Regions from separate parts of the Homo sapiens genome. Here region 1 is linked to region 2. Evidence: fine-mapped expression QTL. Tissue or cell type: whole blood. Region 2 holds a variant in brackets; the other region holds the start of a gene. All regions are shown on one strand. Distances are from middle to middle. Region 1 holds the start of TMCC3 (transmembrane and coiled-coil domain family 3). Region 2 has its middle 26 kb from the start of TMCC3.

Region 1 (15,397 bases), 26 kb after region 2:
CTAGGAAATAAGTAGACATTTAATAATGTTGATCTCATTCACTCAGCAAACATTTATTGAATACTATGTTAAGAACTGTCCAGAATACCTACATGTACCTGGAAAGTACAGTCCTTTCCTTCAGGTAACCTATACTCTAGTGTGTGTAGGGGGGAAGCATAGAAATTATCACATGAAATATTTAAAGAATATAATGTATTATAACCTTTGTATTGAAATAATTAGTCCAGACTGTAAATAGTTGAGCAGTTCACAGGTAATCTGGTGTGGACTGACCACAGAAGACTCAAGCTAGTGGCCTGAGAAAACTCTAGAGTCCTTGGTGCCCCCACTAGAATCCTCTGTTGATTCTCCCTTTATTTGTGCTGTTCAAAGTTCTTGCCTTCTCTTGAAATGCTGCCCTTTTCCTTGTCTTCTTTCTGCCCATACCCTGCATTGAATGTTGCATCAGACAGGATTCTTTGGGTTGCAGGAGTCAGAAACCCCATCTCTAACGGGCTTGAGCAAAAAGAGGAATCCATTGCTTCATATCACTGAAAAGGTGGTCTAGGCAAGGCTGGTGTGGTGGATTGGCTGCCAAAATGGCAGTCAGCAATTTCTCCCATCTATGTGCACATCACTCCTTCCCTCAACAGGTAGACCCCGTTTCTCCTCCCCTGGAGTCTGAGCTGGACTTTTGACTTGCCTTGACCAGTAGAATGTGATGGAAGTGATAATCTGCCAGTTCTAGGCTAGGCCTTAGGAGATTTGGCAGCTTTTGTTTTTGCTGTGTTAGAAGGCAGCCACCATGTAAAAAAATCCAACTACCCTGATGGAGAGATGAGAGACTATAAAAAAAAGTATTTAAAAAAGTATAAACAGGCCGGCTACAGTGGCTCATGCCTATAATCCCAGCTTTGGGAGGCTGAGGTGGGAGAGGCCAGGAGTTAAGATCAGCCTAGGCACACAGCAAGACCCTGTCGCTACAAAAAATAGACAGGCGTGCTGATGCACCTGTAGTCCCAGCTACTCAGGAGAATGAGGTGGCAGGATAGCTTGAATCTGGGTGTTTGAGGCTGCCGTGAGCTATGGTCATGCCATCACACTCCAGCCCAGGTGACAGAGTAAGATAAAAAGTTTTTTAAAAAACTATAAACATATAAAAATAAAGACAGAGGCCCGGCCAGCCCCCACCATTCCAGCCACCCTAAGTCTTATAGGTGCTGACACGTTGTTTGTAGAAAAATCAACTCAAACTATGTTTTTCCTCTGTTCTCACACTACAAAAACAATAAACACAGAAGACTTCTGTGACCAAATATGGGAGAGGGGTTTCCCCACACACCAAGCAAGCAATCAGTTCTGGACACCAGCTGGGTGTCCTCCACCTCTACCTGGAGATAGCGTCAGACCCCACAGTTTGAAGGCAGAGTCCCCAAGACTGCCCTTCAAATGCCAGTCACAAGCCCAGGCCTTCAGAACTTCGGGCCAACCGGCTTCATGTTGGGGTTCCCATGACCCCCTCTTTGGGTTTGATTAATTTGCTAGAGCAGCACACAGAACTCAGGGAACCTTATATTTTACATTTACCGGTTTAGTATAAAGGATATCAGAAAGGATACAGATGAAGAGATGCATGGGACGAGGTAGGGGAAGGAGCGCAGGGCTTCTGTGTCTTCCCTGAGTACACCACCCTCCATAGATGTCCAGCTATCCAGAAGCCCCCTGAACCCTGTACTCTTCGGCCTTTTATGGAGACGTCACTGGGTGGGCATGATTGACAACCATGTAGAAATGTGACTGGACAAAAGGGTATATGATCTAGTACTAAGAGACTGAGTGGCGAGACCCAGCAAGGCCTGTCTGTTCAGATTCTTCTTGGCTTCTCTGTGCAGCATTCTTTCCTCCAGGGTATGGAGCAGGACCCCTTCTAAAATGAACCTTATGTCCTACAGTCAGACAAGGTAGGTCAGAGAATTTCTTCATGGCCAGCTGCATGACAGAAAGGCGGGGGAAGATTCCTTCCTTCAGGAGAGAAAAGAGCAGCTGGAACAAGGGTAGGATAAGGCTTCTGAGGCTGGCTTCTGGGATCTAAAGTGCCCCAAAATCATGACAAGAGACTATTACAGGGGCATTGGTAATTATAAGCCAGGAACCATGGGTGAAAACCAATGTATATATATATATAATAATGTCACTCATATGAATGAAGCCATCTTGGACACCCTACCCCCCCCCCCCCAGTGCCACATGGAACAGAGAAAAGCCACCTCACCTCCCTTGGAGGCCTGCCCAGATTGCAGAATCATGAGCTAATGAGAGGTAGTTATTGTTGTAAGCCAACACCTTTTTTTTTTTTTTTTTTGAGATGGAGTCTCGCTCTGTCATCCAGGCTAGAGTACAGTGGCGTGATCTTGGCTCACTGCAACCTCCGCCTCCCGGGTTCAAGCAATTCTCCTGCCTCAGCCTCCTGAGTAGCTGGGATTACAGGTGCCCATTACCACTCCCAGCTAATTTTTGTATTTTTAGTAGAGATGGGGTTTCACCATGTTGGTCAGGCTGGTCTCGAACTCCTGACCTCAGGTGATCCACTCACCTCTGCCTCACAAAGTGCTGGGATTACAGGCGTGAGCCACTGCACCTGGCCAAGCCAAAGCATTTTAAGGTGGTTTGTCATGCAGCGATAGCAGATGGAAAATGCTGGATCTAGTGCTCTAAGGATTTAGTAAGAAGTCTTTCTCCGTTTCATGGCTCTGCTTTCCCAGGGAGGCTGTCTTTATATGGTGGAAGGATGTCCACTACAGCATCAGGCTTGCATTGTACCAGCTTAGCAATGCCCACTGGAAGGGCATAGGCTTTCCCAGCAGTTCTGACAAAAGTCTGGGGATGACTCTCATCTGCTCTGATTAGCTCATGTGCCCATCCCTGCACAAGCCACAGTGACTCTGACTGGCCAAGGCTGGATGACATGCCACTCTCTAGATCCAAGGATGGGAATGGTCCACCTTATCTAAGCCATTTGGATTAAAAGTAGGAGTAGGGTAGGTCCCAATAGAAAACCTAGGTACTGTCTTCAGAATAAGGGGTGGGATCCTGGGCAGGCTGAAACAACAAACACGCACTACAAAAGTCAAGTGTAGTCCTACCTCTTTCCATAGGCCTTTCACTCCAAACTTTAAACTATTACAGCTCAAATGACCTGGTCTCTTCTTTGGTGCTTTTAGCATCTGCTGTCTTGTTGTGCTCCTTCCTTATAGTTTGCAAGTAAATTCTTATTTCACACCTTAGGTATGAACCTTTGTATTTCTTATTGTTCTGACTGCATTTGTTATTTTAACAGTGCGATATTTTCCATACTTTCTGCAGAGAGAGGCTCTTGGAGGTATCAAAAGCACAGAATTCTTACATTGACAGGAGGAATTTGCACCTGCGCTCTCCCTCTCTCTCTCTCTCCAGGGCTGACAAAACCCTAGGCATTGGCATTGCGTCCAAAGGAGGGGATGTGGTCTATTTTCCCCTTGGGTTCTGCCTCCCAAAAGGAGACCCAGATGGTGATCAGCACTGCTTGTTTTCTTTCTGTTCTGGGGAGCTTGCTCTTCTGCTATTTAATTTGTATATTTTTAAAAAATAATTTTGTATGAGTGCCCAGCAGAGCAGCTTTTGGGCAACTAGCTTATGAAATAAATTTAAATGATCTAAAAAAGAACATCCTTTGTTAATTGACATTTAAATGAGCCTAATAAAGTTTTAATTTATCCTTCTCATTGAGGGTCAGCATTCCAGGATGGAATTCTAAGAAACATCAAGACAGTAATAGAAATGGAAAGTAGATGCCTGTTGGTACCCCCAAGCAAAGCCCAACCCTGGTTTGTCAGGGCCTCTCTGAGTTTATTCACACGTAAAGTGCTATTATGTTTATTTATTTGAGAAGGTACCCCTAACTGGTGATTTGAATTCCAGAATTAAGGATATCACCATATCTGTTCCTTTGAGACTCTGTTACCTTTAAAATTTTAAATTATTCTTCACTATTGTGTGTATGTATGAATGAATGTACATCCAGTGTACCAACAGTCATTTGTTAAAGAGCATTATATATTTATAATTGTGTACCCCTTTTCTATTGAAGCCTTCTTCATCTCCCCACCAGAGATACTGTCCTGAAATTTGTGTTTATTATCCTCTTGCTTTTCTTAAACTTTACAGGAAGGCTGGGCGTGGTGGCTCACGCCTGCAATCCAGCACTTTGGGAGGGTGAGGCGGGTGGATCACTTGAACTTGAGGCAAGGAGTTCAAGACCAGCCTGGCCAACATGGTGAAACCCCATGTCTACTAAAAACACAAAAATTAGCCGGGCATGGTGGTGCACACCTGCAATCCAGATACTCAGGAGGCCGAGGCATGAGAATCACTTTAACTTGGGAGCCAGAGGTTGTAGTGAGCTGTGATCGTGCCACTGCACTCCAGCCTGGGCGACAGAGTGAGACTCTGTCTCAAAACCAAAAACAAACAAACAAAAAAACCAACCAAACAAAAACTTTACATGAATCTTTTTTTTTTTTTTTTTGTGGAGACAAGGTCTCACTATATTGCCCAGGCTGGTCTCGAACTCCTGGGCTCAAGTGATCCTCCCACCTCAGCCTCCTAAAGTGCTGGGATTATAGACATGAGCTACCACACAGCCTACATGAATCTTACTGCAAGTAATTTTTTGTGGCTTGCTTTTTTTGTTTCTCAGTATTGTTTGTGAAATTTGTCCATATTGATTTTTTTTTTTAGCTGGAGTTTGGTCTGTGGCTTATTTTTTTACTTTATTGTTTATTTTCATAAGCAGAAGTTTAATTTTTTTAATGTCAAACCTTTGTGGTTTATGCTTTTTGTGTCTTGTTTTTTTTTTTACTTGAGATGATAATAATGATATTCTTTCATTTTCTTCTGACAATTTTAAGTTGTGTTTTTTCCACTTTAAGTCTTTAATCTGTTTTTTTTTTTTAATTTTTAATTTTTTTAGAGACAGGTCTTGCTCTGTTGCCCAGGCTGAATTCCTGGCCTCAAGTGAACCTCTTGCTTCAGCCTCCTGAACAGCTGGGATTACAGGTGCAAGCCACCATGTCCAGCTAATTTTTTTTCTTTATTTTTCCTTTATCTGGTATTGGTTTTTGTTTATGCTGTGAGGTAGAGATCAATTTTATTTTCATCCAAGTGAAAAGGTAGATCATGCCACTCCTTTGCTCAAAAATTTCCAAATCTTCCCATATTCCCCAAAATTAAAGTTCTTTCTTTTCTTTTTTTTTTTTCTTTGAGTCAGAGTTTTGCTTTTGTTGCCCAGGCTGGAGTGCAATGGCATGATCTTGGCTCACTACAACCTCTGCCTCCTGAGTTCAAGCGATTCTCCTGTCTCAGACTCCTGAGTAGCTGGGATTACAGGCATGCGCCACCATGTCCGGCTAATTTTGTATTTTTGGTAGAAACAGATTTTCTCCATGTTGGTCAGGCTGATCTTGAACTGCTGACCTCAGGTGATCGGCCCACCTCAGCCTCCTGAAGTGCTGGGATTACAGGCGTGAGCCACCACGCCCTGCCTAAAATTAAAGTTCTTAAAATAGAATGAAAGTCCATATATGATCTGGCCCTCTGAAATGTCTCTGACCTCATCTCTTTCCAGTGAACACTGGCCTCCTTGCTCTTCCTTGAACACTCCCGAAATGTTCAGGGCCCTTGACTTTCTGTTTGTCTGCTGGAAATTTTCAATGTCTATACTTCTGGCTTCCTCATTTCCCAAGTCTCTGCTCAAGGTCACCTTATCATGGAGGACTTCTCTAGCCACCCTAGCTAAAATCTCCCTCCAACACACACACACACACACACACACACACACACACACCCCAGCGTTTGGTATTTCTCTTCTTTCAAAGAACTTACCTGAAAAACTCTCTGGGTCTAGTATAGTTGTGTGTTGGGGTAGTGGTAGATGGGTATTTTTAAAAGTGTTGATTTAATTTTTTGAATGGCTTAAGGACTACATGGGACTTTCAATTTCTTCTTAAGTTAGTTTTAACCCTTTCTCTACAAAAAAATATATTTTTAAAATTAGCCAGAAATGGTGGCACACACCTGTAGTTCTAGCTACTTGGGAAACTGAAGTGGGAGGATCCCTTGAGACCAAGAATTTGAGGCTGCAGTGAGCTATGATTGTGCCACTGCACCCCAGCCTGGGCAACAGATACCCTATCTCTAAAAAACATTTTTTAAAAAATTTTACTTTCTGAATAGTTAATATATGCCCACAGTATAAACATTCAAGTTTCAAAAGTATACACAGTGAAAATTAGATCTCTCTCCATCTCTGCCTTCTAGCTACCTGGTTCCCCTCTCTTGGCATCAATTTCTTGTCTGTTTCCCTAGTTTCTTATTTATCCTCCCAGATATATGTCGTGCATGTAGAAGCACATAACATATATTGTTTTTACATAAATGGTGGAATGCCATATATATTATCCTGCACATTGCTTTTTTTCCACTGAACCATGTATGTTAGATTTGCTTCCAAAGCTATTCATAGAGGGCTGCCTCATTTCTATTCCAGTTACCTAATATTCTATTGGATGATGTACCATCATTTATTTACTTAGTCTCCTTCTGAAGGATAATTAGGCTATTCTGTCTTTACAGTGGCCTTCTAAGAAGCCAGTGTGTTTTGCCCATCTTCAATCGCTGCTTCACCCTGATGTCAGATATACCTTCTCCTTAAACTTCCATTCCCATGCTATCATTTCCCTGTTCAAGAATTTCCAACAGCTACCCAGTTCCCACAGAATAAGGCTGAACTTCTTACCCTTGAACGAAGATTCTGCATGGTCTCTGCCTTCTTTTCCATCATGTCTTCCTGTTCCTGAGGACACTCCCCAAAACTGATGACTTGAGGTTTTCCCAAATGTACCTCTGATTTTAGGGGCTCCAAAGTTTTCTTCAGCCTGCTCTACCGTCCCCTTTGAACCCTATGAGGGAAATCCTTCCCTCCCCCTGGACTGGTCACACTGGGCTCCAGGTCCTCTCTGGAACAGCTGCACTTTAAATATTTCAGCCCAGTCTCCCACTGTACACCCTACAGAGCCAGAACAGGTGTTTTGAATTTTGTTTGGGGTTACTGATATTTAAATTGTTCACCAATGGTCCTTCCTCTTCTAAACTCCAAATTCCTTGTGGGCAGGGACTGATGACTGGGAATGGGGAATACTAAAATGAAAAGATATCCTGACTTCCAAGTAGCTTAAAACATAAAGGTAAGCTGGGCACAGTGGCTCACGCCTGTAATCCCAGCACTTTGGGAGGCTAGGGCAGGTGGATCACGAGGTCGGGAGATCGAGACCATCCTGGCTAACATGGTGAAATCCCGTCTCTACTAAAAATACAAAAAAATTTAGCTGGGTGTGGTGGCAGGCGCCTGTAGTCCCAGCTACTTGGGAGGCTGAGGCAGGAGAATGGCGTGAACCCGGGAGGCGGAGCTTGCAGTGAGCCGAGATTGCGCCACTGCACTCCAGCCTGGGTGACAGAGCGAGACTCAGTCTCAAAAAAAAAAAAAAAAGAAAGAAACATAAAGGTGAGCCAGATATGCAAAATTAAAATACACAACACAGTAGGATCTTAGTTTAAGTGGAAGTATGCTCTATGCTCAGGGCAATCATGGTCGGGGGGAGTTTTTATTTTATTTCATTTTTTTACTTTAAATCTCTGGTCTCTAGTCCAGCGTCTGGTACATGGCAGCTGCCCAGTAAGTGCCTGTTGAATGGAGAATAACATAAAAAGAGGCATTTAAGGCAAGTGTCAACTTCTTGCAGTAACAGTCACCTTTTATATATAAAATAAGTCAACAGATAGTGTAGTGTGGATGTCGCTTATCTTTTGGGGAGAAAGAGGGCTGTGTGGGAGGGGATGGAATCAACTTTCAGCCAGGGAGGGAGGCGAAGACATTGCCTCCCGGGTCGGGGGTGGGTGGGGGGTCCAGGCGGCTGCGGGGCGCGGGAGAGGCGGGGAGAAGGGAAGGGGGAGGAGACTCTCGCCTCCTGCCCCGCCTCCCCCACCCCGCGGCGGCGGCGGCGCAGGGCGGCCGCGCGGGTGTTGGCACCAGAGGCAACAGCTGCAGCAGCCGCGCCGCCCCCTCGCCCGCGGCTCCCAGGGTGATCCCGAGCACAGCCGGTGGCTCGCGGCGCGGCAGCCCCAGAAGACGGGAAAGTTCGCGGCCGGAGCGCGGAGATGCCGGGCAGCGACACGGCGCTCACCGTGGACCGGACCTACTCGTACCCCGGCCGGCACCACCGCTGCAAGAGCCGGGTGAGCGCAGCGGGCTGGGGGGCGGCGGGTGCGCGCGGGCCCGGGGGCGAGGCGGGCTGGGGCGGCGGCTCAGTGCTAACCCACGCGCCCCCGGCGTTTCGCCGCCGCCCTCCGCTGCCGCCGGAGGTCCGTGCCTCCCCGATCCTCCGAGCTAAAAGGGTGGGCGTCGGGGGCGTCGGAGCCCAGGCTGCGGTTCTGGGATCCCAGGTCCGCCTGCCCCTCACGGCGCCCAGGTCCCCGCGCGCTATGCGGGACGCCCGGTTCCCCGACGGCCCGCGCTCTGCTGTCCTCCCCGCCAGGGAGCGCCCGCCGCTCCGCGAGGGAATCCCGCCACCCGGCCACCCGCGGCCCCGCGTCTCCAGGTCTCCGGGGTCTCGCCCTGGGTGTGACGGTGCCCTCCCCGCCGAACGTCCCGGCGGCCGCCCTGTCTCCCTGTCCTCGGGGCGTGTGGCCGGAACCCGAGCGCGGTGCGCAGCCGGAGCGCGGGGAGGCGGCGGACGGGCTCTGCCCAAGTGAAAAGTCAGAATCTTTGCGCTGCCTCTCCGGAGTTTCGAGCCGAGCCGAGCAGGCGCCCTCGCCATTGTTTGCAGTGTAATTTGCTGTTGCTGATTTTGGCTGTGGGCGAAAATAGCTCATTCTGAGCCTGCTGCAGAGACGAGCCCTGTAGGGCTTCAAAATAAAGACGGAGGCCGCAGCCCAAGCGCGGGTCTGTCCTGGGAGAGGAAGCCTTCGCCCTCCCCGGTGAATACCTTTGCCCTCCCGGGCTGTTGAATCGTCGAGGCTGGATGTGAGGCTCTGTAACCCGTTCTCCCCAGGGCTGATTGAAGTGCCATTTAACAAAGCACCTCCTCCACGCTGGCATCTGTTCTGGCAGGAGGCACCTGGAGTTGTTCTTTGCTCCGCCAACTACTTACTCGCTTGTCCGAGAACTGGGGATTTGGGTGTCAGCCTCTGTGTAAAGTTCACGGAGGGAGAGCCGGGCTCAGATTCTGGCCTGCCACTTCCAAGATCGAGAGACCAACTGGATGGAAATAGTAGCAATAGTGACGGGGTTGTGTCGCGGCCCTTTGTGCAGGATTTTGGTCTTCACTCATAATTTGAAGTAGTAATCGATTGCCCCAGAAGTGAAGCAATGAGTCTCTGGTTTATTTGCCCGCTTTCCCTTTTTCCTTTAGCATCTGTTAATCATTTTGGAAGGATGATTTGAGTTTTTACAGATTGAATATATTTGGTGGAATAATACCTCATGCACTCATCTCAATCTTACAATTCTCTTGTTTTTGCACTTTGTGTATAAGTTTCGTAACAGTTTGCTGTGAAAATAACCAGAAACTCCATTTGGAATAAACATTGAAGAAATGTGCTTACCCACAGGTAGACATTTCTTCTTGGATAGCTGTAATGCTAGTTAACAGAACTATGAAGAAAAGGAGATCATCTTCGAATGCATTTGTAATTGAGAGGATTCTGTAAAGTTAATATTGCAGACTTGAAATGTGAAAGCTTGTTTTTTCTTGTCACAACTGTGATCTTCTTTGTGTAAACAAGATTAGTAATCTTAGCGGGATGGATGGCTCATTGTCAACTCATTTAAGTGGTTTGGCAAAACTCATGCAACTTTACAAAACTCACTCTTCATAACCTGTAAAATGGTGGTGATAAAGTTTGTGCCTCAACTGCTTAGGTGGAATGTGGTAAAGCAATTGTGTAAGGTAACTGCAGAGTGTTTCTGCCGCATCTGCCACTGTTGCCTGTCTACGCCAGTCTTTTCTATTAAAAGGTCAAAACCTTATGTGATTTCTTGATTTTCTTTAAAATTCTGCTGACGGGCCGGGGGCGGTGGCTCATGCCTGTAATCCCACCACTTTGAGAGGCCGAGATAGGTGGATCACCAGGTCAGGAGTTCAAGACCAGCCTGGCCGAGATGGTGAAACCCTGTCTCTACTAAAAATACAAAAATTAGCCGGGCGTGGTGGTGGGCGCCTGTAATCCCAGCTACTCGGGAGGGTGAGGCGGAGAATCACTTGAACCCGGGAGGCGGAGGTTGCAGTGAACCGAGATCGCGTCAGCCTGGGCACAGAGCGAGACTCTGTCTTTAAATAAATAAATAAATAAATAAATAAATAAATAAAACAATTCTACTGACAATGTTATTGTACCTGCTGCCTTGTATTGTTAGCATGGAGATACCCGATTTTTAAATAAGCTGTGTATTAAAACTGAGTTAGACATTATATGTGCGGATTATCGTAAATTAGCACATTGGGCCAGTCAGATCTAGTGAAGAGAGGAAATCAGAGAAGGGCTAGAACTTCAGCAGACCGTAATCACAAATTCTACTACAGTGATGCTGGACTTCTTGAGGTCCCAGTTGAAACTTCTCAGCTATCTGCTTTTAGGTTTTTTATTGTTGAGACAGCGAGGAATAGGTAGAACTAGTGAAATTTTTGTAAACTCATAATAATAACTTTTCTCAAGCAGGGTTGATGTAATTTCAAGTCTGTCCTGAGGCTACAATAAGTCTGTTGTAATGAAGGGAAAGCAACAATTTTACTGTGCAGAAAGTATTCATCCATTTAAATGATCGTAGCTCCTGTATTGTGGAACTCACTTGGATGCAGCTGTAAAGATATGTTTTCCTGACACCCAGAACGTATGTGATGCGAGAGGAAGACATCGAGTGCTAATTTCTTGATGTCACCATCTCCTTGGGAGGAAACTAGTATAGGATTTAAAAAGAACCCTTTTATGAACTCATTTGGTGAATTAGCTCCCCTAAAAATGCCAATGAGAACTAGGGGGTCATGGGAAGAGTCGACTAATCTTTCAGGGATATGGAGTTTCTGCCTAGAAGTGGGCAAAGACTCCATGAGATGAAGTTCTTAGTTACTGAATGGTCATTTTTTAAATTCAAAATCAATACCTGTTGAGATAACAGGGAAACTACATGGTCTGTCTTGCTGGGCTTATTTCAGCCTTTGAGACTGGAATAATAATGAGGCAGTGTACTCTTTCAACATTGCAGAAATCTATTTTTACATCTAGGTGGACTGACCTAGATAACCCCTCCCCCCTTAGTGAAAATGTAAGTAATGAATTCTGTGATTGTTGCTAAGCTGACAAGTCAGGATCATTCACATTTTAAAACTTCATCTTTGTAAAACTCAGAAATGGTGCTTGTTAACTTGATGCACATATCTCTCTACTTTAGAAGAAAGAGCATCCATAATTAGACTCCTACTTTTTTTTCATGCCCTAGATAGTTAAAGCCTATCATCTTTTTAAGAATACAGGCCGTCTGCTTTCTATACAGTAACTGGCTTTTATTAATGATGTGTGAATTAGGTTTTCTTTTAGTTGGTTTTCATTTTAAGTGTTCTAAAATGCCCTCTCCAGCCACTTGAGTATAGTGGTGGACAGCTGGGGCTCTGGACCTACGTGGGTTGTATTCTGGCTCTTCGAGCTTCTTAACTGGGTGACCACTGGGGCAAGGTCCTAAATAGCCTTTCTGAGCCTCCAGTTTCCCATCTGTAAAAGAGGTAATACTCCACTCTTCTGGGAGTGATTGTGTGTCTTAAATAAGAAAGTATTTGTTTTTTAAAAAAAAAAAAAAAAGCCAGGCACGGTGGCTCACGCCTGTAATCCCAGGACTTTGGGAGGCCGAGGCAGGTGGATCACCTGAGGTCAGGAGTTCAAGACCAACCTGGCCAACATGTTGAAACCCTGTCTCTACTAAAAATACAAAAATTAACCAGGCATGGTGGCAGGTGCCTGTAATCCCAGCTACTCGGAAGGCTGAGGCAGGAGAATCTCTTGAACCCGGGAGGCGGAGATTGCAGAGAGCTGAGATCGTGCCATTGCACTCCAGCCTGGGGGACAAGAGTGAGACTTCCTCTCAAAAAAAAAAAAAAAAAAAAAAAAGGTGTGTGCTTTCAAATATTAGCTATTTAAAAAAATTTTTTTAAATTTATGTTCTCTCACTGGGTGAAAAAGCTGTATTTGTCTATATGTCAGGTTAATAATTTTTTTCTATTTTGTTGGTGCCACTACTAATCAGAACTGCTAGTCATCTTGAGTGCCTGCCCTCCCCCATCTCTCTAACCTATTAGCAATACCACCGCACCTTTCTCTGACATTTCTCTGGAATTGGTTTCTTCCATATCTCCCAATCATCCCCCACCTTAGTCACTTATGACCTTCACCAACTTCTGTTCCATCCTGCATGCAAGGACCATATTATTTTCCCTACAGAACCATTTGCATTAGGATAGTCCCCAGAATACAGATCTTGTACCAGTGCTGTTTGCTACCAGTGTAATCTTGGATCCTGTAATCACTCTAAGCCTTAGTTCCTACTTCTACATAATAGGGGTGTTTTGAGGAATAAATTCAGTAATGTCTATAAAATGTTTAACTCCATGCCGGGTGCACAATAAGAAATCAATAGATGTTAACCACTTTTACTATAGGCCGAGCATCTCAATCCAAAAGCCAAAATCCAAAACTTTTTGAGCGTCAACATGACGCTCAAAGGAAATGCTTACAGGAGCATTTCTGATTTCAGATATTTCTATTTGGAATGCTCAACCAGTAAGTATAATACAAAGATTCCTAGGCCGGGCATGGTGGCTCATGCCTGTAATTCTAACACTTTGGGAAGCCAGGTGGGTAGATCACTTGAGTTCAGGAGTTTGAGACCAGCTTGGCCAACATGGTAAAATCCGGTCTCTACTAAAAATACAAAAAAATTAGCTCGGCATGGTGGCAGGTGCCTGTAATCCCAGCTACTAGGGAGGCTGAGGCAGGAGAATCGCTTGAACCTGGGAGGCAGAGGTTGCAGTGAGCCAGGATTGTGCCATTGCACTCCAGCCTGGGCAACAGAGGGAGACTCCATCTCCGAAACAAAACTAAACAAAACAAATTCCAAAATCTGAAATCTGAAACACTTCTAGTTCCAAGCATTTTGAATAGGGGACCTGTACTATATGAAAGAGGGATTTGTGAGCTTAGAAACGGAAAGGCTGCTAATTTTGTGAAAAGTATAGACTTTTCTAGCATTGCTAGCATTTTGTGCCTCCTTGCGTCATGTTTCTCATGACATTGACTGTTTATATGTTTAATGCTTACATGTATTTATAAACTATAGACATTGGCACTTTGAGAGCAAGATGCTTCGTTTATTCAAAAAATACTTACTGAGCACCTTCTGTGTGCTGGCTGCTGATCTAGGCATCAGGAATACAATGGTAAATGAAACAGTCTGGTCTCTGTGGAAACTTAATATCTGGTGGGTGTATCTCATTTATTCTTGTGGTTCCGGACAATACCCCTGTCTTGTACAGGAGAACATGATGATAATACATGCAGAAATCTCTAACATCTGAAGTAAAACTTGTGTCAAGCGTGAGTGCCACCTGTAGTATATCTTCAAGTGTTCTGTGGTTTGGAAATCCATCTACAATTACATGATGAGTAATGACCAAAGGCAGTGAAGAAGAGGATGCTGTAGCCCTTCTCACAGTGGAACTGGTTGGGCAGTGATGTAGTAAGTTGATGATCACATGCTTACTCCCTGGGCAGGAAATAGGGGGAGTGGAAACTGACCTCTGTCCTGGAGGACACTGACCCGGTGAAGTGGTAAGTTGAGTAGTACACAGATATCGTTTTCACCGGTGATTTGTTTTGTTCTAAAGAGCCTCTTAAAGAGAATGAATAATGGTGAGTGTCTCAAGCCAGGTTTTTCTTACATTTAGGATGAGCAAAGTGATGCGGTGTGTGTTTTTCGAGCTGTACTTTGTTGCAGGCTTTTCCTTTAGAGGAGAAGGAACTGCCGGCCACCACCAGCTCACCCGCCTGTCACATCCGCTGTAGAGATCACCAAGACAGCTGCTACCAAGTTGGATCTCAGGGTGTATTTTGCTTCAGACCCTCTGCCGGCATCTCCAGGACTGCTGCTAAGGTCAGAAATCAACCTAGTCCTACTTGGAAAATGCCCGCAGCTTGACTTAGAAGAGTCTGCAGCTTTCAGCCCTGTGGTTTCTTAATTGTGTTTTCATGTTTTCAGTGGAGGGGAGGAGGGTGACAAGAGAAGAGGAAGAGAACCATGAATCACTGTACTGTGAATCAGAATGAGGACTTTTCATTCCTTCGAAAGAGAACATCAGGATATATGATTTGTGCATAGGCCAACTGCTTCCGTCGACTTGGGAGGGGTGCTGCCTGAAAGGAACCATAGTATATTTGTGGATTATTCCTCTGTAAGGAGGTAAAAAGAACATAGGTGAAAGGAAGAATGCAGTCACAATAATAGTTAATGTGTACTGAGTGCTTACTGTACACCAGGCAACATGAAGCACTTCAAATACATGATCTCCTTGGTCTTCCACAATATCCCACTTTTCCATTTTACAGATGGGGAGGCTGAGGCCCAGACAGATTATTAGTTTCTCTAAGATCTTGTGGCTATTAGGAAACTATGGTAGAGCTAGGGTTTGAACCTGTGTATGTCTCAACTCCAGAGCTTGATTCTTTACCACTTCCCTGTCTGCCTCCGTGGCGAACACTGGAGAGCAGCCCAGTCTTTCTAAACTAGTTGGGTGCCTGGGGAAGGATGTGTACAGCATCTGCTGGGCACTTACCCTAATTGTGTGCTCTAATTCTTATGACATGCACATTGCCAGTCTTTTGCACGTAGTCATATATTCCCAGTAAACATGTGAATGAATGATACAGAATGATAGTTCATGAACTTTAATGCCTAGGATATGAGAATTTTGCTAGTAGTTTGAAGTCTTAAAGGCTGTCAAATAAGCTCATGATTTAAGATCATTAAAGAACCGTGTTTTTGCCTGATGTTTGGTCTCCTGAGGATGGACTGTTGAATAGCAAGGTGAAGGTGGTGCTTCCTTGTGAACATGGAGTTCAAGACATGCCTGCAAACGTGTCTCCTCAGTAGATCCTCATGACTGGCCTGTGGGTTCACACCTTCTTTTGAGCCATGTCATCAGTCACCTACCTGGTGATCTTTCTGTGAAGGCTCTTGTAATATTAAACCATGCCTTCTTGTGTCCCCTGCAGAACATCACAC
Region 2 (15,397 bases):
CGATTTATCAACTCCAGCAGAAGCATCTCATTCAGCAAAAGTACCGGAATGAAGTGTCATGGATAGCTTGGGCCATATGACCATCCTATACTAATAAATGCTCACATAGCACTATGTGCCAATTCTATTCTTGTAACATCCCATTGATGGGGTTCAGAACACACTACCCCAATATATGGCAGTTTGGCATACTGCATATTTTAATCTGAAGGAATATGAGAAAATGCAGACACAGGAAGGTCTCTCTGACCTTTCCTCTACCCTTCCCTTCTGAAGCACATCATAAAATCTAGGACAGATTTTCTGAGCTTCCCTTGAAGAGGGTCATGAAACACTCATGTGAGAGTTGCTTTCCCTATATTCAAAGGGAAGGAGCATCCTTATCTCTGAAGACGATGGGACACAGAGAAGAATCCAAACAGGCCTTGCTAAGTTCCTCCAGGTCACTGCACTCACCTTGCACCCTTTGCCCTATCATATTTCTCCACCACCATCCTCTTCATCAACCTACTATGAAAAACACTCAGGTTTAATTGCTTCTCTATGGTTTCCTCTCTTTATGAAGGCTGCTGTGTCATGTAAAACATATTAAATAAATTTGTGTGCTTCTCTCTTATTAATTTGGCTTTTATTACAGGAGCACTAGCCAAGACACCTAAGATGGATAGAAGAAAATATATTTTTCCCCCTACAGCACTTTATAGATGAAAAACTTAAAACTTGAGGCACACAGAAGTTAAGTAACTTGCTCAGGTTCACACAGTAGTAAGTATTGGAGCTGGGGATTTGAAACTCAGGAAGTCTCTGCCTTTAGAGTCTGTGGTTTTATTGGTCTTTAATGCTATGCTGGAGCCAAGGGAAAGAAATGTTCAGACTGGCCAGTGCTGGAGCAGATTCTATATTTACAACCTCATTCTCTCCTGACATCCTGTATTCTAGACCCTTGAGGGATGGATGTGTGTCATATCAGATATTAGTGAATTTTAGAAAGCAGGTTTGTGAGCACCTTCTGCTTCAGAGACTGCAGCTGTTTCTGCATCATATTCATCATTGCCAATGTCAGCCTGACTGTAGCCATTTGAAAAGAAGCCTCAGAGCTTGTAATAAAGCAAAACTGAGGCTTCCTGGCCCCAGAATCAGGACCATGTCAAGATTCTGGCCTCTCTTAAAGAAAATTATTACCAGTACACAGCCTTGGGAAGAAACAATAAAGTAACTGGTGCTTCATCAGCAATGAGAAGTAAAATGAGACTAGCCGGGTGCAGTGGCTCACGCCTGTAATCCCAGCACTTTGGGAGGCCAAGGTGGGCAGATCAGGAGGTCAGGAGATCGAGACCATCCTGGCTAACACGGTGAAACCCCGTCTCTACTAAAAATACAAAAATTTAGCCGGGCGTGGTGGTGGGCGCCTGTAGTCCCAGCCACTCAAGGCTGAGGCAGGAGAATGGTGTGAACCCAGAAGGTGGAGTGTGCAGTGAGCCGAGATCACACCACTGCACTCCAGCCTGGGCGACAAAGCAAGACTCTGCCTCAAAAAAAAAAAAAAAAGGAAGTAAAACGAGACTTTAGAAATTACTCACCAGAATAAGTGATAACTAATAGACAAACTCATTATTATCGAATCCAAGGATTAGGCTTCAGGGAACATTATTTTCAAAAAATGCAGACCCAGATTTGGAGAATTAAAAGTTTTTCCATCTTTTTCTGTTACAGGAAATAAATTTACACGGATAAATATTTCTTTTTTCTCTTTCTTTCTTTCTTTCTTTTTTCTGTGAGATGGAGTCTCACTTTGTCACCCAGGCTGGAGTGCAGTGGCACGACCTCGGCTCACTGTGACCTCTGCCTCCCGGGTTCAAGCGATTCTTAAGCCTTAGCCTCCTGAGTAGCTAGGACTGCAGGCACATGCTACCACAGCCAGCTAATTTTTGTATTTTTAGTAGAGACGAGATTTCACCATGTTGGCCAGGCTGGTCTTGAACTCCTGGCCTCAAGCGTTCTTCCTGCCTTGACCTCCCAAAGTGCTTGGGATTACAGGTGTGAGCCACGGCGCCCAGCCTACACGGAAAAATATTTCTAAGTTGTCAGTTACTGACCCTGTTTTTGAGAATTGGTTCACAGGACCACTGGTATCAGAAACCACCTGGGATGTTCTTTATTAAATCATAATCCCAGTTGGGCTTACACCGGTGGTCCCAGCTACTTAAGAGGGAAGGCTGGAGGGTCGTTTGAGCCCAGGAGTTCAAGTTGCAGTCAGCTATGATCAGGCCTTGGCACACCAGTCTGAGCAGCAGAGTAAGACCCTGTCTCTAAAAAGTAAATAAAATTAAATCATAATCCCAAATAGACACAAGAATCTGTATTTGTTAAACACACTAAGTGACTCTTACGTCCACCAAAGTTTGAGAATCATCACCATAAGTGGCTGGGGCAAAATAGGATATTAGAAGAAGTAAGACCATTGGGTTCTGTATTAATTCATTCTTGCACTGCTATAAAGAAATACCTGAAACTGGGTAATTTATCAAGACAAGAGGTTTAGTTGGCTCACAGTTCTGCAGGCTGTACAGGAAGCATAGCGACATCTGCTTTTGGGGAGGTCTCAGGGAGCATTCATTCCTGGCGAAAGGCAAAGCAGGAGCAGGCATCGTACATGGTAGGAGCAGGATTGAGAGAGGGGGCAGTGCTCCACACTTGTAAACAACCAGCTCTAGTAATAACTCACTCTCTCTCATGAGAACAGCACCAGGAAGATGGTGCTAAACCATTCACAAGAAACTGCCCCCATGATCCTATCACCTCCCACCAGGCCCCTCTTCCAACACTGGGGATGACATGAGATTTGGGCAGGGACACAAATCCCCACCATATCAGGGTCTTAAATTGAACCAAATGTAATGGCCATAGGAGGCAGTTTCTGCTGGGTAGGGAAAGGGGGCAGCTCATTTTTCTCAGAGGCCACCATATTTTGAACAGCTTTAATTGTTAGGTGGTACCTCTAATGTTTATATCTTTTTTTTTTTTTTTTTGAGACATGGTCTTACTCTGTCACCCAGGTTGGAGTGCAGTGGTGCAGACATGGCTCACTGCAGCCTTGACATCCAGGGTTCAAGCGATCCTCCCACTTCAGCCTCTCAAGTAGCTGGGACCACAGACATGCACCACCACACCTGGCTATTTATATTTTGTAGAGACAGAGTCTCACCATGTTGCCCAGGCTATATATATTAGTCTGTTTTCATGCTGCTGATAAAGACATACCCGAGACTGGGCAATTTACAAAACAAAGAGGTTTAATTGGACTTATAGTTCCACATGGCTGGGGAGGCCTCACAATCATGGCGGAAGACAGGGAGGAGCAAGTCACATCTTACAGAGAGGGCAGCAGGAAGAAAGAGCTTGTGCAGGAAAACTCCCCCTTGTAATAATCATCAAATCTCGTGAGATTTACTATCACAAGCACAGCATGGGAAAGACCTGCCCCCATGATTCAGTTATCTCCCACAGGTCCCTCCCACAGCACATAGGAATTTAAGAGGAGATTTGGGTGGGGACACAGCCAAACCATATCACTATATATCTTCTCATTCTTTCTTTCTTTTTTTTTTTTTTGAGATGGATTTTCGCTCTTGTTGCCCAGGCTGGAGTACAGTGGCACAATCTCGGCATCTCGGCTCACTGCAACCTCTGCCTCCTGGGTTCAAGTGATTCTCCTGTCTCAGCCTCCCAAGTAGCTGGGATTACAGGTGCCTGCCACCATGCGCAGCTGATTTTTGTATTTTTAGTAGAGACTAAGGGTTTAGTAGAGACTTAGGGTTTCACCATGTTGGTCAGGCTGGTCTTGAACTCCTGACCTCAGGCAATCCGCCCACCTCAGCCTCCCAAAGTGCTGGGATTATAGGTGTGAGCCACCATGCCTGGCATATCTTCTCATTCTTTATGTTCAGAATTGTTGATCTCTATATTCACTGCTAGCTCTGTAGAGCAGAAAAGAGTAACACTAACCAGTGAATTTTAGTAAAGAATTTTTCAGATGGAAAATGTACTCTCATTAGCTATAAATTGACTAACCAACAACAATAATTAGCATTAGTGAAAAGAGCAATTGTTAAATAATAAGAGCTAACCGTTTTTGAGTGGAGTATAGTGAGCACTTTACATGCATTATCTCACTCTGTCCTCCTAGTCACCTTATGAATGAATGGGTGGTGATATTATCTCTATTATCAGACGAGGACACTGAAGTACAGACATTAAGTATCGTGTCCTAGATCACAAATACTGGGGCAAAGTTGGACTCATTCAGACTGATTCTGTTTAACATTGAGCCCATTTGCTTTTAACCTTTGAGCCATGCTGTCTTATCCTCTCAACAAGAATTTATTATTCTCTGGGAGACTGAAAACCGAGTCTGAAGAAACATTGACTGCAACAAGTGTGCATTTATTATATACTGGAAAAGAAAGCTACCCTGCCCCTGGCTCCGGGACTCACCATTCTAAGAGATCTAGCTGATATGCACAGAGACAGGCTTGTATGTCTCAGGTACCTGTTATCCAAATTAGGACACAATGGTGCCCATATCCTGTGGGGCCCCTCAGTGCTTCCAGAGCATTCCAGGGGTCAGATTTCTCCTGCTTCCTGGGTCTTGGATCCTTGACTTTGTGAGGCCATTTTAGTTGCTGCTCTTGACCCATCCTAAAGGTCAGAGCTGGGTTAAAGATAAAATAGCATACCTGGAAGAATCAGCCATAGCAACCTGTCTCTAAGTGCACTTTTGCTCCAATTCCAGTGACCACTTAGGCCAAGCCATGAGTTCATATAATGGGATATCTGAAGATATATGACCTCAGAAATTCACAGAGCAGATGGGACCCTTGCACAAATCATTACAGTATAAGGCAACGTGTAGTAGAGTGTGGGAGCTCTGGTGTCCAACTGCCTGACCAAGTCCAGTGTCGCCACTGCCCTTTTAGAGATAGTACTTAACCTTTCTCAATCATGGCTTTCTCACCTATAACTAGGAATAGTAGTAGGATTAAATGAAATAAAATGTATCAAGTGCTTCATAGGATTCCCATCCCATAGTATGTGTTCAATAAGTAGCTCTTATTATTGCTGTAAACAAAATATTATTTGTGGCAAGAAGAAGGAGATACTGCTCCTAGCAATCAGAGAAGTCTTCTTTGAGGAGGAGCATTTGATCTGGGCCCAGATGGGAGGAATTTCTGTGAGAGAGGAGGGATTATTCTATGCAGCAGCGGAACCATAACCTGCAAAAGCACAAAGGGAGAGGCAAGGCACGTGCAGGGCGCGGTGAGTGAGGCAGAATGACTGCAGGGCAGAGGGTGCGGGAGTGCAGGAGGGTAGGTGGGAAAGACTGGTCAGAGGGCGTTTGTGGAAGGTCTCAGAGGCTGGTGAGCATCATGTTAATCTCCTAGTCCATCCCTCAGGTTTGAGAGCTGAATACCCACTAAATAAGAATTGCACTGTCTTTTTTTTATTCTTTTTGCATTTATAATACTTACGATCCTAGCCAGGGCTGACTTGGAGGCAAGAATAATTCCCTGGCAGTTTTAGGAAGCTGCATGAATTACACATTCCTGGTTATGTGGACTCTCAACTTTTTGTAAACGGTAAGTGTATTACCAAAGGTGTATGATTCCTTGTGCAGCCACCCCCACGGCCCCCATCCCACCCCACCCAACCCCCGCCCTGCTGGCCATTCCTAGCTACAACCACAGAAGCCAACGCAGCCCAGAAGACAGTGCTGATTTGGGTGTTCCTGTCATTGGGCAGCCCTAGACTCCAGGCCTAGGGCGCGGCGGGGGTGGGGTGGGGGCAGGAGGGAGGGCAAGAGGAGGAAGGAAAGCCAGTCTCTTTTTGCAGATAGAGAAGAGGGTGCCCAGAAGAATTGTGCTGAGCTGGTGATTTGAGCTGTTATCTGCTTGGATGTACGATTGATTCACTCCTACTCCGAGGTTCTCAGAGCCCAGAATGTTCCATAAGTGAAACAATTGATGCATTCGGTCTCTGTGGCACTTAATCCACCACTCCTACCCCCATTTTAATATTTGTAATAGTGATCAGTGAAGGGCAGGACTTGAATGTTTTAGAACTAAAACGGGATAAAAAGTAAAGTCCTAATAATGGTTCTCTTCTGTCTTTGTCCCTCTAATTAGAGAAGGCCATATCCATGTCTCCATAGGAAATGGACAGTTAGGGAATTGGTACCGGGCTGGAGTCATGTGTAATCTTGCCCTGCCTGAGGGAGGCCTGATGTTGGAAGTATTTAAGAGAGTCTGAAAGCTTGGCTGCTCTAATAATTAGACTGGCTGTACTGGTTTTTCTTTGCTTATTAAATCACAGGCCAGAAACACCTCTGTGGCAGGACCTGTGTACTGAATTGGTATGCTGTGAGATCCAGAGCAAACTGAAAGTATGTCACACTTTGAGCATTTTCACAGACCAGTCATGGCCACAAGTTTAGGCCTGGCTTAACCTGATTCACTGGAAATCAGCTTCAACAGCACCAGCTGTAATGAAAAGTAAATATGCAGGTGTTTGTTGTTATATATCTGGCATTGTTAAGCTATCACTGAATTTTTTAAAAATCTTGAATCAGTTGGTGAATGTACATGTATCCAAACAGCTTGCTTCCAGACTGTGTACAATATCTTCTTTCTTTTTTTGAGACAGAGTCTCCCCTGTTGCCCAGGCTGGAGTGTAGGGGTGCCATCACGGCTCACTGCAGCCTCAACCTCCCAGGCTCAGGTGATCCCCCCACCCCAGTCTCCCGAGCAGCTGGGACTACAGGTGCACACCACCATGCCTGGCTAGTTTTTGTATATTTTGTAGAGATGGGGTTTCACCATGTTGCCCAGGCTGGTATCGAACTCCTGGGCTCAGGCGATCTGCCTCGGCCTCCCAAAGTGCTGGGATTACAGGTGTGAGCCATTGTACCTAGCCCATAAGTATCTTTTAATGCTTACCTTCAATTATGATAGATATTGGGAATACCTTGCATTTGTATAAAGCGTTTTTACTGGCTGATTTCAGTTGTTTGAAATCATGCATCCTCTGTCAATCTTCTGGCTGATTCAGTTGTTTGATTCTGCCCAGAACCAAGTGTGGCATAATAAATATTAGCTCCTTGATCCACAGAGGATGCTGACCCTGAATTGAGTGACTTATACAAGATGACAAAGCTAGACAGTGGCTGGCCGGAAAGAGCAGCCCACTAGGTCATCTGCTTTTGGGTTCAGTGTTGGGGTTTCTCCACCACATTGTGACAGAATAGTCTGGCTTGACTGGTTTTTTCTAAAGCACTGATTTTTCAGCTTCCCAAGAAAACCAGAGTAGATCCTCTTTTTGTTTATTTTGTTGACCCAGTTATACACCTTCTGTTCTATAGCTTTTCCCATCTTCTAGGATATGGGACGCAAATTTTATGCATAGCCAATGATTTTTTAAACCAAACTCATAAGCAAAATCTGAATTTCCTTGGAGCAGGAAGCAGAGAAAACAAATACCTTCTCTGTGCTGATTGCTCACATAGACATGCTAACCCACACTCTGCAAAGGGGTTGAGTTTTAGAAATTTAAATTACTTTGTTGTCACCTAAAATAAAACCTTCCCTAGACACTCCCCCAGCACTCTCTTTTTTAGTTTTTATTTTTGAGACAAGCTTTCGCCATGTGGGCCAGGCTGGTCTGGAACTCCTGGCCTCAAGTTATCCACCCACCTCAGCCTCCCAAAGTGTTGGGATTACAGGCGTGAGCCACCGTGCCCAGCCCCTCTGCCCTCCCTTCAACTATAGCCTTATCTTCCTCCTTGTCTGCTTTGCAGGCCAACCCTGGAGAGAGTTGGCTAACTTCCTGTCCTTATTTTCTCATCTCCCTCTTGTTTCTCACTCTTCTTCCGGCTGGACACTGGCCAGGTTTTTGTTAAGGTCACCGGTGGTCTCCACATGACTCAGTTCAGTGGACTTGAGTTTTTCAGACTCAATTTATTTCTCTTAGGGGATTTAGTACACACTGTGACCTTGGGAAATTTACTTCTCTAAATTATTTGCAAAATGGGCGTAGCACCTTCCTCCTCAGATTGTAGCGAGGTCTAAATGACATAGTTTGTGGGAAGTGGTGAGCATAGTGTCTGCTACAGTGAGAAGTACATGCTAACCACTGCTTTTATCAACACACTTCCCCTGGTTC[C/T]GGTGACACTGTATTTTCTTGTTTTCCTCCTATGCCTTTGGCCCCTTCTACTCCTCTGTGTTATCATGAAAGGAAATGAAATGCGTCTGCGGCAACAGGACTCTGGATGTGAGTCCCTGGATGTGAGGTGTTAAAGGAGGGACACTCCCAAGAGAAGTCTTAAGCAACTAAGTGGTGGTGCCATTTGCTGAAAGGTGGGATCCTAGAGGAGCCAGAGGGGCATGGAGGAAGGCGGGCACACTTGAACATACTGAGCCATCCATGTGTAGATGAACTGGATGGATGGGTGAGTAAGGCTGGAGGTCAGAAGAGACATAGGAGCAAGAGGCTCCATGGCCGGGCAGGTGGCTCACGCCTGTAATCCCAGCACTTTGGGAGGCTGAGGTGGGCGGATCGTCCGAGGTCAGGAGTTCAAGACCAGTCTGGCCAACATAGTGAAACCTTGTCTCTATTGAAAATACAAAAATTACACTTTGGGAGGCTGAGGCGGGTGGATCGCCTGAGGTCAGGAGTTCGAGGCTAGCCTGGCCAACATGGTGAAACCCCGTCCCTACTAAAAATACAAAAATTAGCTGGGCATGGTGGCGCAAGCCTGTAATCCCAGTTACTCGGGAGGCTGAGGCAGGAGAATCGCTTGAACCCGGGAGGCGGAGGTTGCAGTGAGCCGAGATCGTGCCATTGCAATCCAGCCTGGGCTACAAGAGCGAAACTCCATCTCAAAAAAAACAAAAAACAAAAAAACAAAAATTAGGTGTCGTGGCATGCGCCTGTAGTCCCAGCTACTTGGGAGGCTGAGGCAGGAGAATCAGTCGCTTGAACCTGGGAGGCAGAAGTTGCAGTGAGGCGAGATTGCTCCACTGCACTCCAACCTGGGCAACAGAGTGGGACTCCATCTAAAAAAAAAAAAAAAAAAAAAAAAGCCAGCAGTGGTCTGGGAGAGAAAGCAAGATGGGAAGGGAACGGTCTGGGACAGATGCAGAGAAACGTTGAACTGTTTCAATAGCCTCCTGATCAGCCTCCCGGCTTCCACCCTGGCCCCCCCATAAAAAGTCCTTACTCTGCCAGAAAATGCCACAGGATCTGCGCTGCTGTTCTTCTAACCCCAGGCTGCTTCTCTGACCTCATCTCCACCCTCCCCGCTCTCCTGCTCGGCTCACTCTGCTCCACCCATGCTGGTTTTCTTGCTGTTGTTCCTCAAATGGATCAAGTGCTCCCCTTCCTTGGAGCTTTTGCACTTGCTGGTCCTTTTGCCTAGAATGGTCTTTTTCTAGATATTCTACATGTATCACCCCCTCACTTCCTTCAGTTCTCTAGTTAGGTGTCCCAGCCTATCCATGAGAACTTCCCAAAACATATTATTCAGAAATGCAACACTCATCTATCCCCTTTTCTCTGCTTTCTAAAATTTACTAGCATCTGATATGATCTATATCTACCTGACATATTTTGTTATATTGCATAATATGGTATTATATACTATGTTTCTATATGTGACACATGTAATAATGATAAATATATATACTAATATACCATAATATATATTATACCATCCCTATATATTCTAATCTGCTATATTATACAGTAATTTTTAAAATTTCCCACCTCCAAATATAACTCCATGAAGCCAGCAACCTAATTGTGTTCACTGCTATATCCTTGGAGCCAAGAACATTTCCTGGCATGAAATATACACTTGCTAATATCTGTGGAATTAAGAAATTCCAACATTTCATGATAGCAAAAAAAAAAAATCAACTTTTATCTCCCCCAGGGTTGCCATTTGAAGCTGCAAGTACATTATGCAGAGTTGGTTGCTGTGGTACCAATATGTTTTACATTTTGTATAGTAATGTTCATGAAATGAAGGATGGGTTTCCAATTTCCATTAGTGCAGGATGCACTCGAGTCCTGCCAAAAGTTTCTTCCCTTTTGAAATGCCTTATCTCCAGCTTAAAAACTTCAACTTCCTTTTTTAAGACCCAGCTCCCTTTCTCAGGAAATGTGTGTTTCTACTAGGATACAAATGGGATTTATGATGCTGAGGGAAGTCGATTTGATTTGCTGAATATACCCTTGACAATTGAGAGAAGGTTATCTGAAATTAAAAAAAAATAATAACCCAGTTTGCCAGTATGCCACTCTGGATTACAGAACGGCATCAAGGTTATTGTGCTTGGAACGTTTTTGTTTTTCTCTTTTAAAAATATTGCCTAATTATGGACAGGAGGATATAAAAACAAAAGAAGCTCACATTCTCTTCCCCATTTCCAGTCTACTGAGGATGACCCCACGGTAGACTTAGATTTTCTCAGTGATTCAGAAGAAAATTGAGTATTGTTAAGGAAAAACAGCCTTAACCTGAGACTCTAAAATTGTGCTGTAAGTGTGAGCAGAGGGACACAGAAAGTCTGCTGATGAATGTCACCTGCTGTCTTTTGAAAACCAATGTATGCCACGGGACTCCTATGAATAGTAAATAGTACATGGCCTTTGAGCTGTTTTTATGTCAGTGGTAATAGGTCACACTCTTACTTAATTGCTCGTGCAGTTCAGAATTACCATATGGGGGTTAAGGATGCCCTTTGTGTCCACTGCATTTTGGGTTAATAGGTGTGAAGCATTAGGCCTCATAGCCCTGTGGTCCACCTGTGTTTGGCAGCGAGTTTAGCTGTGGGTGAGTAATTAATTACCTAACTATATAAAATAACTATAATTTTTTTCTCTCTGCTAAGTAAAACTATTTCTAACGAATAGCTTCACAGAAATTGAATACCAGTGCACAAGGTTCTAAGAAGCTTTTACATCTGAATATGCTTGATAATGTCTTAAAGGTGCATTCTATACATCCTTGTATGTATTTCTTCCTTTACCTGGGAAACGTTAGATAATAAAAAGGCTTGGTTTCGGGTGTCAGGTGGTCTTGAGTTTGAATCACTTACTAGCTGACTGATTCTTGTACCTTTTCATGTCTCTCACCGTGAACACTGGGGATGGACGTATGAGATACACTCCGTGAATTTCCTATTCGGGTAAGACATGGTAAAGAGGACTGCCCTACATTTTCATTTAAATAATTGCATTCAAAATAGAAAGGCTCAAAGGATGAGGGAATTTTTTCCATTAATGATTAATTAAGGTCAAACAGCTAGGCTTTCACTTGATTTACACCTAAATATGTATTAATTCATATTTTCTTAAGTAAATGTCAGTTATGCTGCCAAAACAGAAACCAATAACAATTCAGAGATTGAATACTAGAAAATAAACCTAGGGTTTGGAGAAGCTATTGAATCTAACTTTATCTAATGCCATTATAAATATCAGTTTTAAACTCAATAATATAACTTGGTTCTGTTTAGGGAACAGTGTAGGGAAATGGAAAAGGGTTGGTCTGGGGTATCAGACAGACTTGGGTTTAAATCACTTACTGTGAATGACAGCGGGCCACTGTCCTAACCTGTCTCCGTCTCAGCCTTGCTAGCCTGAGTTTGTGACAAGGATGCTGGCTGCAAGGTGTGTGTTTGTGAAGCCACAAAGATGAGAACCTGGCCACCCAGCAGGTGCCCACACGAACTGCAGAGTCTCTTCTCCCTCTTCTACTGCCTATTCCTTCAGCTCTGCTACCAAGTAGCAAGCCATTTTACATATCTGTGCCTCAAGTTTCCTCATCTGAAAAAGAAGGCTGAACCACACACCTTGTTCTGAAAAGTTCTACAGTCTAGGCTTTAAAAGTATAAATGCTTAAAAAAAAAAAGTTTCCTACTTAAAAATTGATACCATACTTGGATGTGTAGATGAAAATATCTACAGACCATGAACCATTCTGTTATTTATACTAAAGATAAATTCTTCTGAGAGCAAGTTAATTGGAAAATCCAGAAACCATTAACAATTTCTTGCACTCACCTTAAAAGAGCAATGAAATTCCATATCCTACAGTCTTGAAATGAGTAAATGGAAGGATGTAAATATTTATTGGAATGAGAGTGGAGCAGAGAGAAGCTCGGCTTTGTCTACTGGTGGGTGGTAACACATCTATGGATCATTGTTTGCACTAAGCATTTAATAATCCCATCTGTTGAAAATGTATAATTGGAGGTACTTTGAAATTGCTATAAGCTACCTAGAAATTGGCAAGAAAGTAATGCTGGAAAGATTCCAAACTCTGCAGCCAACCAAGAAATCCAATATAAATCAATATGTAATTATAAAACCACATCTTTGGCCACAGCTCTTTAAATATATTTATTTAGGCATGATACAGACTTTTAACACCAGAATCTGGAACTGGAGAGTCCTTTGCAAGCCTCAGGTTTGAATCTTTGGGGATACTGTTTATTTGACCTGCAAAACCCACAGACAAAGGCAGAACTTTCTGCCCCCAGCTGCTATGGTACTGTCTCCACTGATAACTCCACGTTCTCACTTGTCTCCCAAGTCCTTTAAGTTAGATTATATCTCATTTCAAAACTGAATCACTTGGTCTTATTAAAAACTTTATACTTCTTTTTCCTTCCTGGTACCTCTTTTCATACCAGAAATTCACTTGGTTGGGCCTGCCCTGGCTTCTCATTCAGAGAAGCATCTTTGCAGTACATTCCTACCTCTCAGGAGTTTGTGTGTATTTTTCACACTGAACTTCTTTCTTTAAAAATCTCCATTCACTGCCTTCCTTTGTTCCCTCATCTCCTCTGTTCCTCTCCCCACACTCTCCCTTTCTATTCATATATCACAGGCTGTGCACATATACTTTATGCAGAGAAATGGCATATTGAGAATTGTAGCTGTTCTTAAGAAAAGAAGACTGCATACTAGGAAGAGCTGTTAAAGACATTCTATGGGTCATTACCTCTTTAGTTATCTCTTTGGATGGAAATTTTTATGTAGCTCTATCTCTATGCAAAATTAAAGTAGGGGTTTAAGAAAGTACCTAATCAAAATGAGCAGATTTCAACAAAGGAAATCAGGGCTTTATTTTCCCAGGAATGTGGAGTTTCTTTGTAGGTTTCAAGATCCCTACTCTCTCATTCCCCAGCTGCTATTCCCCCTTATCTCCAGGCACAGCTGCTTCCATACATTTGCCAAGTTCATCATCGCATGAGTGGTGTCAGGGACTGAACTGTGCCCCTGTAACATTGGTATGTTGAAGCCCTAGACCCTAGTACTTCAGAATGTGACTGCATTTGGAGATAGGACCCTTAAAGAGGTAATGAAGTTAGAGCAACGCCATTAGGCTGGGTTCTGATCTATCTGATGTCCCTGTAAGAGGAGGAAACCAGCCAGGCATGGTGGCTCACGCCTCTGTAATCCACCTGGGCGGATCACCTGAGGTTAAGAGTTCCAGACCAGCCTGGGCAACATGGTGAAAACCCATCTCTACTAAAAATACAAAAATTAGCCGGGCGTGGTGGCATGAGCCTGTAATCCGAGCTACTCAGGAGGCTGAGGCACGAGAATCGCTTGAACCCGGGAGGCGGAGGTTGCAGTGAGCCAAGGTTGTGCCACTGCACTCCAGCCTGGGTCACAGAGTGAGACTCCTTCTCAAAAAACAAAACAAAACAAAACAAAACAAAAAAAACCGAAGAAGTGGAAACCTGGACACACTGAGAGACACCAGGGATGACCATGTGAGGACACAGCAAGAAGGCAGCTGTCTGCAAACCAAAGGGAGAGGCCTCAGAGAAACCAACCCTGCTGGCACCTTGGTCTTAGACTTCTAGCCTCTGGAACTGTGAGAAAATAAACTTCTGTTGTTTAAGCCCCCGAGTCTGTGGTATTTTGCTATGGCAGCCTGAGCAAAGTAATACAAATAGTTATAGCAATATCACATTTCTGTTATGAGATCGCCGCAGCATCAAACAGGAGAATCCAAGAAGGAGACCTAGAAAAACAGGTGAAACCACTTTCAAGCAGGAAATAAACTCTCTGGAGAGATGATCTAGCACGTGTGTGAAACATGTTCTAGGTGTATGACGTCTTTGGAACATTTTTTCCCCATCAAAGCCCAGTTTTGGGATTTTGACCTCCTTTGAAGTCAGGGAAAAATTTGGACCACAGGTTCAGGCATACGGAAGTGTAAGGAAACTATGTGGCATTCAGAGAGCTGTGTTCATGCTGATGTTGAATGCTAGGAATGTCTGATGCATGGGGTTACGCTGAGAATTAACCCGCTTCGATCCGGGTGAATTAAGATAAAGCCAAGCTGCGCTCGGTTAACAGCCCAGATGGAGATGAGTGGAGAGGTGCTGTTAACAGCACCAGAGCAGTCATTGTTTGGCTGGATTTTGGTTTCAGCTTTATAGAGTTAGCTTCAAAGAAGTCTTTAGAAGTACTTTGCACAGTCATGGAGTCCCTCTGTATATTTGATGGCCTCCAGCTCCATTCTAAAAGTGTGACCTTTATAAAGCCATAAGGGACTTTTGCTTGATTCAGTACTTTAAAGAAGGAAAAAAATGTGTTTTTGTACCCTGTGGTGTAGGCCTCTTCAAGATAGTTTCTTAAAAATCATTTGTTCCTTTTATTGTTCTTAATTTATTCCTATTTATTGATCAAGTAGGAACAATGGATATCAATGTATAATTTATGTATTATACAGTCCATCTAGAATTCCCAATGAATTATCAATAATAGAAAATGTGGGCTGGGCACAGTGACTCACGCCTGTAATCCCAGCACTTTGGGAGGCTGAGGCGGGCAGATCAGTTGAGATCGGGAGTTTTAGACCAGCTTGGGCAACATGGTGAAACCCCCGTCTCTACAAAAAATACAAAAATTAGCTGGGGGTGGCAGTGTGCACCTGTAATACAAAAATTAGCCGGGCATGGTGGTGGGCACCTGTAATCCCAGCTACTCAGGAGGCTGAGGCAGGAGAATCGCTTGAACCCCGGAGGTGGAGGTTGCAATGAGCAGAGATTGCTCTACTGCCCTCCAGCCTGGGCAACAGAGTGAGGCTCCGTCTCAAAAAAAGCAAAACAAGCAAAAACAGCAACAGCAAAAAAACCAAGAATGTTCTGAGATGAAACAATTGCACCTGCATTTTAAATTTTGGTTTGGTATTCAGGGATCTACTGCAGTTTCACTCTTTTCAATATGAACTACCAATTATTTCCTTTCCACATTGATTTCTGATGCCACCTCCATCCTAGATTGTGCTTTCATATGTGCATGAGCCTGTTTCTGAGCT

The links.
Region 1: it holds the start of TMCC3, and the variant in region 2 is fine-mapped to the expression of TMCC3 in whole blood (TOPMed, PIP above 0.99).

The regions. Positions count from the first base shown.
Region 1 is chr12:94,643,266-94,658,662 of GRCh38, reverse strand. It overlaps TMCC3 (transmembrane and coiled-coil domain family 3), which reads left to right and starts at 8,106. Exons shown (of 4, transcript NM_020698.4): 1 at 8,106-8,310. The coding sequence starts at 8,233. It overlaps LOC105369914 (a long non-coding RNA gene), which reads right to left and starts at 12,225. Exons shown (of 2, transcript XR_945225.4): 1 at 9,060-12,225; 2 at 7,661-7,758. RefSeq lists silencers at 7,983-8,152, 8,173-8,642, 8,733-8,862 and an enhancer at 7,939-8,654.
Region 2 is chr12:94,668,975-94,684,371 of GRCh38, reverse strand. No RefSeq gene overlaps it. Among named protein-coding and RNA genes, the nearest start is that of TMCC3, 26 kb to the right of the region's middle. RefSeq lists enhancers at 1,027-1,116, 7,593-7,702, 8,293-8,402. The variant C/T (reference allele first, on the strand shown) is at 8,215.